Linked DNA regions of Homo sapiens: all the other regions are linked to region 1. Evidence: fine-mapped QTL for protein levels in blood plasma. A gene starts in region 1. Each other region holds a variant in brackets. All regions are shown on one strand. Distances are from middle to middle. Region 1 holds the start of CD33 (CD33 molecule). Region 2 holds the start of LOC101928517 (a long non-coding RNA gene). Region 3 overlaps LOC107985327 (a long non-coding RNA gene). Region 4 holds the start of MIR8074 (microRNA 8074).

Region 1 (2,686 bases):
ATGGAAAAGAAGTTTTTTCTGCACTGGTTCATAGAACATGTGTTCTCCCTTTTGTTTCACAGGAAGATGCTGCATGGTTCTTGTTTTGGAGATGTCATTGACACTGTGCAAATCAGTGTACTAGGTGCCAGGGGAAAATTCTATAGTCATATTTCTTTTAAAATTTCCAATATGCTACCATGATACATGGCAAATTCCCAACTTTTCACAGCTCTAAAGCCAGACAGCATGTGTGTGTGTGGTGAGGACATGAGGCTATGGATGGGGAGTATCTTAAGGGCAGGAATCAGGTCAGTGGCATCTCTTCTCAAGCCCCACCTATACACAAAGGCTCACTGTAAGAATTAAAGAAAGAGGAAAGAAACACGAATGGTGGCTCACCAGTCAAGACAGATTTTAGAGAAAACAAACCTGAGAGGAGTTTCTGGCCGAGTTAAGTCAGAGGCACACTCTCTTACAGACTAAGAGTTTTTAAGGATTTAGGGTGGGAGAGTTTATCAGAGACTTGGACTGCTTCTGAGTCTCTTTGTTGTGCTTATCTGGGAGAGAGAGGTGTGTGTCTGTACCCATACATCTTTCTGCAGCTACAGGCATACCCACTGAGTCTGCTTTTAGCTTCCCTATCTTAGTGCACCTGAAGGGAAAGGAATTTGCTTATTAAGGCCCACTGTTTTACTAGGGCCATTGTATGAGGGTGAAGTTTGGCAGTAACTCAAGAGACTCTCCCCCTACCTCCCTCTGTGCCCGAGCTGTCTTATCTGTGTTTCACTGTCTGCTCTTTCTGGTTGCTTGTAGTTAGCAGAGAAGTGATTTCCTTGAAATGCATGAGGCTAGAAAGGAAATTGGAACTTAAAGAGGCAGTGTTTCTCCGAGATGACGGTGCTCCTGCTCTGTCACTCACTATATCTTTAGTGAATGAATGAATAAATGAATGGCTGCCACCTTCACTTTACCTAGGACTCTTCTTTGTTTCTCTGCCCCAGACACTCACACGGACCCTATAGAATCCTATATCCTGCTGGACTAAACACCCCATGGATCTAGGTGAGGCTGCGACTCGGGCCAGGCCAGCAGTGATCAGCCCTGGTGTAAACAGTTGTGCACAGAAAAGCACCTCAGAGTGGAAGGACTTTAGACATGGGGTTCGCATGTCTCAGATGGCCCTGAAGGTACTGATCCAGGCTCTGGTGCTCCTGGAAGGCAAGACTCAGATTCTGCTCCATCTCCTCCCATCTCTGGGCGGGTCTCTGGCATCTCTGGCCCATGAGGGTCAATCTGTGTGGAGGGGACAAGCTCTGAGCATGTGTGGGTCTGAGGTTCCTCTTCCATGCAGGGCTGAGGTCTCCTGCTCCTCCCCAGCTTCCTGTCCGGCCCTGTAGTCCTTCCCCTCCACTCCCTTCCTCTTTTCTGCTCACACAGGAAGCCCTGGAAGCTGCTTCCTCAGACATGCCGCTGCTGCTACTGCTGCCCCTGCTGTGGGCAGGTGAGTGGCTGTGGGGAGAGGGGTTGTCGGGCTGGGCCGAGCTGACCCTCGTTTCCCCACAGGGGCCCTGGCTATGGATCCAAATTTCTGGCTGCAAGTGCAGGAGTCAGTGACGGTACAGGAGGGTTTGTGCGTCCTCGTGCCCTGCACTTTCTTCCATCCCATACCCTACTACGACAAGAACTCCCCAGTTCATGGTTACTGGTTCCGGGAAGGAGCCATTATATCCAGGGACTCTCCAGTGGCCACAAACAAGCTAGATCAAGAAGTACAGGAGGAGACTCAGGGCAGATTCCGCCTCCTTGGGGATCCCAGTAGGAACAACTGCTCCCTGAGCATCGTAGACGCCAGGAGGAGGGATAATGGTTCATACTTCTTTCGGATGGAGAGAGGAAGTACCAAATACAGTTACAAATCTCCCCAGCTCTCTGTGCATGTGACAGGTGAGGCACAGGCTTCAGAAGTGGCCGCAAGGGAAGTTCATGGGTACTGCAGGGCAGGGCTGGGATGGGACCCTGGTACTGGGAGGGGTTTAGGGGTAAAGCCTGTCGTGCTTAGCGGGGGAGCTTGACCAGAGGTTGATCTTCTCTCAGGCCCTCACCTGGACCCTCCCTCCTGATTCTGCATCCCCTCTTTCTCCTCACTAGACTTGACCCACAGGCCCAAAATCCTCATCCCTGGCACTCTAGAACCCGGCCACTCCAAAAACCTGACCTGCTCTGTGTCCTGGGCCTGTGAGCAGGGAACACCCCCGATCTTCTCCTGGTTGTCAGCTGCCCCCACCTCCCTGGGCCCCAGGACTACTCACTCCTCGGTGCTCATAATCACCCCACGGCCCCAGGACCACGGCACCAACCTGACCTGTCAGGTGAAGTTCGCTGGAGCTGGTGTGACTACGGAGAGAACCATCCAGCTCAACGTCACCTGTAAGTGCTGGGCCAGGATGCTGGGGTCCCTGAGGGTGTAGGGGAGACAGGATGGGCTGGTGCTGGGGACATTTAGTGTCCTGGAGGCCTGGCTGAGTTCGGGAGCCAGAAGGACATGAGCCCTGTCCCTTCTGCATTTCTGTGGTTTCTGGCAGGAGTAAGGGGAAATGCCTACCCTTATCTCATCTCTACCCCCAACTGAAGGAAATCCTCTCTTCCTCTCCTAGATGTTCCACAGAACCCAACAACTGGTATCTTTCCAGGAGATGGCTCAGGT
Region 2 (2,686 bases), 43 kb before region 1:
TTACCTTTCTGTAGATTTGGTAAGCCTGCCAATCAACACATATTTATCACCTACTGCGCGCAAAGCAAGTCCACAGTGCTTTTGAAAGTTGTACGTCTTTGCCTTCAGGGACTCACTTTCCATAGTGGGACCTCAGTATGCAGTGAGGAAACTTATCCTCTCACCTGCTCCCTGCCCACCTCCAATCTGTTCTCCACAGGGAAGACAGAGTAAATTCTAAAAATCCACTTTTCTGCTCCCTTCAGTGGCTTCCCATCACCCAAATGGGAATAGCAGAAATTCTTAAGATGAGTCCAAGGTGTTACATGCAGTATCATATATATGTATACATATATGTATACATATATATGTACATAGTATATGTGTGTGTATACATATATATGTACATAGTATATGTGTGTGTATACATATATATGTACATAGTATATGTGTGTGTATACATATATATGTACATAGTATATGTGTGTGTATACATATATATGTACATAGTATATGTGTGTGTATACATATATATGTACATAGTATATGTGTGTGTATACATATATATGTACATAGTATATGTGTGTGTATACATATATATGTACATAGTATATGTGTGTGTATACATATATATGTACATAGTATACGAGGAGATGGAGTTGGAGGTTCAGTGAAGATGTGCAAACCTGGATTTCCTCGGACCCTGGAGCAGAGAGGATGAGGAACGTGTTTGAGGCCAAAGGGGTCAACGGGTGGGTGGGGGTGTGGGTGGGGGTGGGGGGCTGCAGTCAATCACTGACTGGCTTATGGATGATTGACATAAAGGCTGGGTTGCCAGGGAGCCCAGTGACTCACAGCGTGAACCCGATTACCTGGTCTACACAGGCGGTAACCGTGTGACTAGCGACTGAGTGCCTTACAGGGGACGACCTCCTAAGAGGCTGACTGGCAGGAGCCCAGCTAACTGCTGGCCAGGGCAGGCCGTGGGGGCGCGTTACCTGATTGTCTGAGGAACTGGCTGGCGCGGGGACTGACGCTGACTCGCGGGGCGCTGCCCTGGTCACGGCCTCAGCTCCTCACCGGCCGCCTCACTGGGGCGACGGCCGCTGGCTGCCCTCGGGCTGAGCAGGTGACTGGCGTGGTGGAGGCGGAGGAATGCGCGGCGGGCTCCTGGTGATCTCCTGAGGGTCCGCGGTCTTGCCTCGTGACTGATCCAGAATGGGCCTTGGACCCCACAAGGGGCTCGGGGGCCTCGCGGGCCTGAGGGTGACACTGGCGGCCTCACGGGCCTGGGCTGCCCCACGCTCCAAGGGGTCAGCTGACTGAGGGACGCCCTGCTCTCCTGGAAGCCCACTTTGCGCAGTCCCGATACAGGTCCCGCAGCCGAGGACTGCCGGGGACGCCCACAGGCCAGGCACTGCTGTGAGGCCAGGAATCCTCCATCAGCGCGCGGAGAAAGC[G/C]GTGTGAAGGCTCCGCTGTCGCCCTGGGCCCAGCCCGCGCGCCTCGCACGTTGTGCGTCTACCCCACAGCCAATCAGTGGCTGCACAGGCCTCTTTAGTAGCCAATCAGCAGCTTCAGGTGCCTATTACGCAGCAGATCTGCGAGGCAGATGGAGCTTTCCCCCACGGACACTTGCCTCTGGGAGCTGACGCACAGCCAATCAGGAGCTGAAAGTGCAAGTCCCTCCCCGCACCTTCAGGCCCAGAGGAATCCTACGGGCTTGAGCCAATCAGCAGCCGCGGGCGGTGCCAGGAACGTTTGGGCGCCAAATTTCTTCTCAGCGAGTCCTTTCCTGACCGCGTTCTTGAAACCACGCTCCTCTCCAGCCAGCCCTGAGGACTCCGTTCCTCTTGATTAAATCTGCTTTATTTTCTCACACTTTACCCACTGCACACTTTCGAAACACTTCTTGCTACTCAACAATATTTTTGTGGCCGCCCCGCTAGGATACAGGCGCACTGCGGGCAGAATTTTGGCCGTTTTTTTCTCGCCGCTGTTTCCCCCACGGCCTTTGGCTGCGCCCTGCTCGCTGCTCTGGGATGAACTTGCCTTTCAGGCAGCCCTGCCCATCTCTCACCTCCCAGCTCACCTGTCCCACCTGCCCGCGGATCCTCACCCTCTCCGCTGGGCTCCCACAGCCCCGTCCTCCCCGCTGGCTCAGCCCGGACCCCGCCAGGCTGTGCCCGCCTCTGTCTCCCCTGCCCGTGGCCGGTGCCCCTCCAGGCTCCGCCTCGCCCAGCCCAGACGCCCAGGCGGCTCCGCCCCATAGATGGGAGGCAACTGCCCAGGGTGCAGGGGCAGCGAGGGGCTGCGGCTGAGAGCCCTGCCCGGTCCTGGGGAGGGAGGGAGAGTGTGGGTGGAGGGGGCAGCCCTGCAGATGTCAGAGACAGGGCGGCAGCAGCACAGGTTTCCTCTGGTGAGGAGCCCTTCCCTTCCCTTTTCTCCTTCCATCCTCTGAGCATCCCATGTTACAGGCTGTCCCAGACCCCTGTGGGGCTCTGCATCCACCGCGGTCCACACCGGGCTGTGCTCACAGGAACACATCGAATCCTCTCGACCACTCCATGGACTCTCTTGCCAGGGCCGCCTTGAGAAAGGAACACAGACCGAGTGGCTTCAACAACGCCTTTGTTTTCCCACCCTTCTGGAGGCTGGAAGTCTGAGACCAAGCTGTGGTCAGCGTTGCTTCCTTCTGAGGCCTCTCGGT
Region 3 (2,686 bases), 21 kb after region 1:
AGTCTCCATGGCCAGAGTTTTGTTCCACTTCTCCCTTTCCCTCTTCACCCATTCCTGTAAGTCACCAAGTTCCTGGCCTGTCCCCTTCCCCTTACTCTCAGATCCAGGTCCCATCTTGACTCCTCTTCCCCAGAACATGGCAAAAGCCTCCTCCCCAGCCTCTGGGCTCCAGTCCCACCCCAACCAGCCCATCACCAAAACCATCAGCAATGGGAGCTTTCTAATACTCACCTCTAACCCTGTATCTTTCTTGCTAAATATCCTCCCATGCCTGCCTCTTTGCCTCAAGATGATGTTCTGACTCTAGTGAGAGTTATTCAAGCTTTTCCCAGGCCAGGAACAGTGGCTCATGCCTGTAATCCCAGCACTTTGGGAGGCTGAGGCAAGAGGATTGCTTGAGGCCAGGAGTTAACACCAGCCTGAGCAACATAGAGAGACCCTGTTTCTACAAAAGCAAAGAACAATTAGACAGGTGTGGTGGCACGCACTTATAGTCCCAGCTACTTGGGAGGCTGAGGTGGGAGGATCCCCTGAGCCAGGCGTTCAAGGTTATAGTGAGCTAGATCACGCCACTGCACTCCAGCCTGGGTAACAAAGTGAGACCTTGTCTAAAAAAAAAAAAAAGGCCTGGTGTGGTGGCTCACGCCTGTAATCCCAGCACTTTGGGAGGCTGAGGCAGGGAGATCATAAGGTCAGCAGTTTGAGACCAGTCTGGCCAACATGGTGAAACTCCGTCTTTACTAAAAATACAAAAATTAGCTAGGCGTGGTGGCATGCACCTGTAGTCCCAGCTACGTGAGGGGCTGAGGCAGGAGAATCACTTGAACCCGGGAGGCAGGGGTTGCAGTGAGCTGAGATCGCACCACTGCACTCCAGCCTGGGCGACAGAGCAAGACTCTTTCTCAAAAAACAAAACAAAACAAAACAAAAAATAACTTTTTACAATCTCACCCTCAGCTACCACCCCTCACACATCTCAGCCACATCCTAGAGATTGCATGTCCCTCTGTGCCTCTCCATGCTTCATTCATGTGGTTCTGTCTCTTTGCAATATTGTCCCCTGCCCTCCTTCTTTGCAGCACACACTCATCCTTTGAGAGCTGGTTCAAACATCACCTCCTCAGACAAGCTGCATTCCCTACCCTGTCCCCTCTCCCAGCCCCTGTACTTTCCCACAGCTTGGATTAGAGCAGTTTATCAACTGCTGTTGGTGGGCCAGTTCAGGTTCTTGACTTTGCGGCACAAAAGAATTTGAGAGCGAGTCCAAAGTAAGAGTAGGCAAAGAAGTTTATTACAAAGCGAAAGTACACCCTGAGAGGCAGAGGGAGGGAGAGACAGCCTCTAGCATCTCAAGGTAATTCCTTTCATGGGAACTATACATACATATTCATAAAATATTGGTGAGTCCAGCATGAAAGGCATGCACTCAGAATCTATGTGCTCTAACACGCATTGCATGTATCATTAGCATATAAAATCTCCACCTAGGGGTGTATTTTCTACTATTCAAATGAGGAAAAGGTCACTATAAGCTAAACTTTGAACATAGCTGCACACGCAGAGCCCTGGAGAAGTTCCCAGCTCCCCCAAGGCAGGAATTTGTAGCTCACAGCTTCTTGGGTTTTTGGTGTTGATTGGCTGGAGACTGGGGAAACTACACCATGAATAAGTGGCTTTTGTTCTCTTT[C/T]CCAGGCCACATTAACAGGAACTTGCAACCATCTGGTGGTCTGCTTGTATCCTGTAGGACTGTTTATCTTGCAAGAGTTAGGTGCTGACTCACGAGAGTGAAAACCAAAGAATCTGCTTCGAAAGGGATCCATGGGGCTTTGCGCAAGGATACAAGTGAGTATGGCCTCCTAACCTTACTTATCCTGCCTCACAACCTCAACGATATTCATATTCTGGCATTTGGGGCTGGATAATTCTTTGGTGGTGGTGGTTAGGGGAGGGTGTGGCAGGTCAGGTCTCCCTAACCGCTGAACAGGCAGGCCTCCATAACAACTGTCTCAGCACTGATTGAGTGGTTAAGTTAAATATTAAAAGCTGACAGAGCCAGTGCCCTCATACAAAGGCTGGAATGTAACAAAAGCCCACCAAGAATTTTGCCCAGGCCTTTTCTGGGCCTTGAGCATAACAAGATAATGAAGGAATTCTTAACAGGACCCGTTTAGGATTAAACAAGTTTTATTGGGGGGTCTGAAGAAACTCCTCTAAGCCTCCACAAACAAGTTTATTGGGGGTCTGAAGGAACTCCCCAAACCTCCATGATTTAGCAGGAGACAAGATAAGGGTAATCACCCCAGCACCTGGACCCATTTAGTTTAAATAAATTTACTGAGGCTACAGAGGAAGATCTTCAGGACTGACATCTTAGTTACAGATTGGAAGAAGTTAATCGCTTACGTCCAGATGAATGCACTCTTACATGTAGACAAATAGCTTAGAAGGTATATGAGCTCTGGAAAACTTTGTAATTTTGAGTTGGTCTGGCAATATTTTCCAGATCTTCTCCCTGTGCCCAGTTACAGAAATAAACTCCCTTCTCTCCCAGTTCACCTGCATCTTGTCATTGGGCTAAGAGAATAAGCAGCCTGACCCTTGGTTTGGTCCAGGAACAAGGGTGCATGGTCAGATGTTGAGCAGCGTCTCTAGGTTGTACACACAAGATGTCAGTAGCTCCCCTAGT
Region 4 (2,686 bases), 18 kb before region 1:
AACTAAAATGCCCAGTAACTGACAAATGGATAAATGGAATGTGGTCTTTCCATGCAATGGGATATCACTCAGTCCAAAAAAAGAAATGAAATAATGATGCATGCTACAACAAGGATTATCCTCGTAAACATGGATTTACCTTGAAAACATTACCCTTGGTAAAAGAAGCCAGACATGGAAACTCATCAAGCTTAGTAGGCCATTTAGAGAAAACCCACAGGTAACATTACACTCAATGATGAAAGACTGAAATTATTCCATTCACATTAAATATCCAGCATAGATAAATCCATGGAAATAGGTACACGTTAGTAGTTTCCAGGGGCTCTGGGAAGCAGGCAATAGAAAGTGACTGTTTCCCTTTCAGGGTGATAAAAATGTTCAGAAACTAGATGGTGGTGATGATTACACAGCACTGTGAATGCAATAAATGCCACTGAATTTTATACTTTTTCTTTTTTTTGAGACAGAGTTTCACTCTGTCACCCAGGCTAGAGTAGAACGGTGCGATCTCAGCTCACTGCAACCTCCGCCTCCTGGATTCAAGCAATTCTCATGCCTCCATCTCCTGAGTAGCTGAGATTACAGGCACCCACCACTATGCCCAGCTAGTTTTTTGTATTTTTAGTAGAGATGGGGTTTCACCATGTTGCCCAGGCTGGTCTTGAACTCCTGAGCTCAGGCGATCCGTCTGCCTTGGCCTCCCGAAATGCTGGGATTACAGACGTGAGACACCGGGCCCAGCCTGAATGTTATACTTTAAATTAGCAAATGGAAGAAATTCTTTTCTGATTTTCAAATATTACTGAAATTTTAAAGAAACAGCAGAGATGCTCAGGGTGAAGCAAGTGCTTACTGTGTGAATCCATTTATAGGAAGTTGTAAAACATGTAAAACTAGTTGATGGTGACAAATGTCAGAACACTGGTTGCTTCTCAGACTGTATGTGGAGGCAGAGATTAATATGGAAGGGCATGAAGGATGCTGTTTTCTCTGGTCAAAGAATGACCCTTATCTTGAGAGGGTTTCAGTTGTGTGAGTACATGCCAGTCTCGCCATAGGACGTCTCTGGGCTCCCATGGGCATCTTGCATAAACTCAGGAACTGGGTTCTTCTATTCTCTGCTGCCTCCCACCACCCTACTCTCAGAAGATACCTTGATTCTGGCTTAAGAGGAAATAAACACAGTGTAGTGATAGAGACCCTTTCCTGACTATAAAACTATTCACCTCATTGCAGCTGCTACCATCCCTCCTTCAACTTGGTTGTTCCATCTTACCTTGAAAAGTGACTTATGGAACAACTTGTCCAAACGTCTCCACTTTAGAGGGACACCAGTTTCCTGTGTAATTATGTTGATTGCAATGAAATACTCCTAAGAGAGGGCTGACATTCCTGCTTCCAATCAGAAAATGAGGTCATTAGGCAAACGTCCAGCAGAGAGAGTAATTAGAAAAGATGAAAACATGCATTCCAATCTATTCTGTTCTTATTAT[GT/G]TTTTTTTTTTTTTTTTGAGATGGAGTCTTACTCTGTCACCCAGTTGGAGTGCAGTGGCATGATCTTGGTCACAGCGATCTTCACCTCCCAGGTTCAAGCGATCCTCCTTGCCTCAGCCTCCTGAGTAGCTGGGACTACAGGCACCCACCATCACACCTGGCTAATTTTTGTATTTTTAGTAGAGATGGGGTTTCACCATGTTGGCCAGGCTGGCCTCGAACTCCTGACCTCAGGTGATCCACTTGCCTTGGCCCTTCAAAATGCTGGGATTACAGGCATGAGCCACTGCGCCCAGCCTATGTTCTTCTGGCTGGACTGGAGGACAGTAAGGAAACAGGGCAGGGCTGATGCTTTCCAAACACAGTGGGACATAGTCCTCAGGTCAGCAGCGAGCAGGGGATGGGAACCCACCTCATCTCACTAACCCTAGCTGCCATCAGTAGAACAAAAAGTCATTAATAAAATCCAAATCCTGGAACAGCTTCAAGGAAACAAATGTCAACATTGACCAAGTCAATAAACATGTCAGTGTCTTCTGGCCAGAGATCAGCAGGCACCAGGAATAGATATGTAGTTGGGTTATTACTCATTGCAGTGAGGAACCACGAAAACCATGAGGTGTTTCAGTAAGAGAGAATTATAACTGGCTTATTATAGGATTTGGACTTGTGTTAGGTGATTTGGGGAAACTTTTTAAAAAGCAGTGTTTGCTTCTTTGGATGTCAGGAAGTCAGCATAATTCTAACACTGGATCTTCATACATCTAATAAAAAAGGAGAAAGAACTAGACCAAAGCTACCTTAGTCAGTTTGGGCTAGAATAAGAGATATCACAGACCGGCTAGCTTAAAAAACAAACATCTAACTTTGGGAGGCCAAGGTGGGTGGATCACAAGGTCAGGAGATCGAGACCATCCTGGCTAACACGGTGAAACCCCGTCTCTATTAAAAATATAAAAAATTAGCCGGGCGTGGTGGCGGACTCCTGTAGTCCCAGCTACTCGGGAGGCTGAGGCAGGAGAATGGTGTGAACCCAGGAGGCGGAGCTTGCAGTGAGCCAAGATCGTGCCACTGCACTCCAGCCTGGGTGACAGAACAAGACTCTGTCTCAAAAAACAAACAAACAAACAAAAAACAAACATCTATTTCTCATAGTTCTGGAGGCTGGAAGACCAAAATAAAGATGTCA

What was found. PIP is the posterior inclusion probability: the model's chance that the variant is causal. Sun 2018 read protein levels with aptamers (SomaScan).
Region 2: its variant is fine-mapped to the plasma level of the CD33 protein (Sun 2018, PIP 0.95).
Region 3: its variant is fine-mapped to the plasma level of the CD33 protein (Sun 2018, PIP 0.95).
Region 4: its variant is fine-mapped to the plasma level of the CD33 protein (Sun 2018, PIP 0.95).

The regions. Positions count from the first base shown.
Region 1 is chr19:51,223,673-51,226,358 of GRCh38, forward strand. It overlaps CD33 (CD33 molecule), which reads left to right and starts at 1,408. Exons shown (of 7, transcript NM_001772.4): 1 at 1,408-1,483; 2 at 1,546-1,926; 3 at 2,131-2,409; 4 at 2,637-2,684. The coding sequence starts at 1,447. The region is part of intron 2 of LOC107985327 (a long non-coding RNA gene); the gene reads right to left.
Region 2 is chr19:51,180,497-51,183,182 of GRCh38, forward strand. LOC101928517 (a long non-coding RNA gene) reads right to left here and starts at 1,470. Exons shown (of 5, transcript NR_110732.1): 1 at 978-1,470. RefSeq lists an enhancer at 721-1,692. The variant G/C (reference allele first, on the strand shown) is at 1,440.
Region 3 is chr19:51,244,555-51,247,240 of GRCh38, forward strand. All of the region lies in intron 2 of LOC107985327 (a long non-coding RNA gene), which reads right to left. It also overlaps a transcript of SIGLECL1 not described here. Among named protein-coding and RNA genes, the nearest start is that of SIGLECL1, 5.2 kb to the right of the region's middle. The variant C/T (reference allele first, on the strand shown) is at 1,688.
Region 4 is chr19:51,205,902-51,208,587 of GRCh38, forward strand. It overlaps MIR8074 (microRNA 8074), which reads right to left and starts at 1,108; the gene lies at 1,028-1,108. The region is part of intron 2 of LOC107985327 (a long non-coding RNA gene); the gene reads right to left. The variant GT/G (reference allele first, on the strand shown) is at 1,497.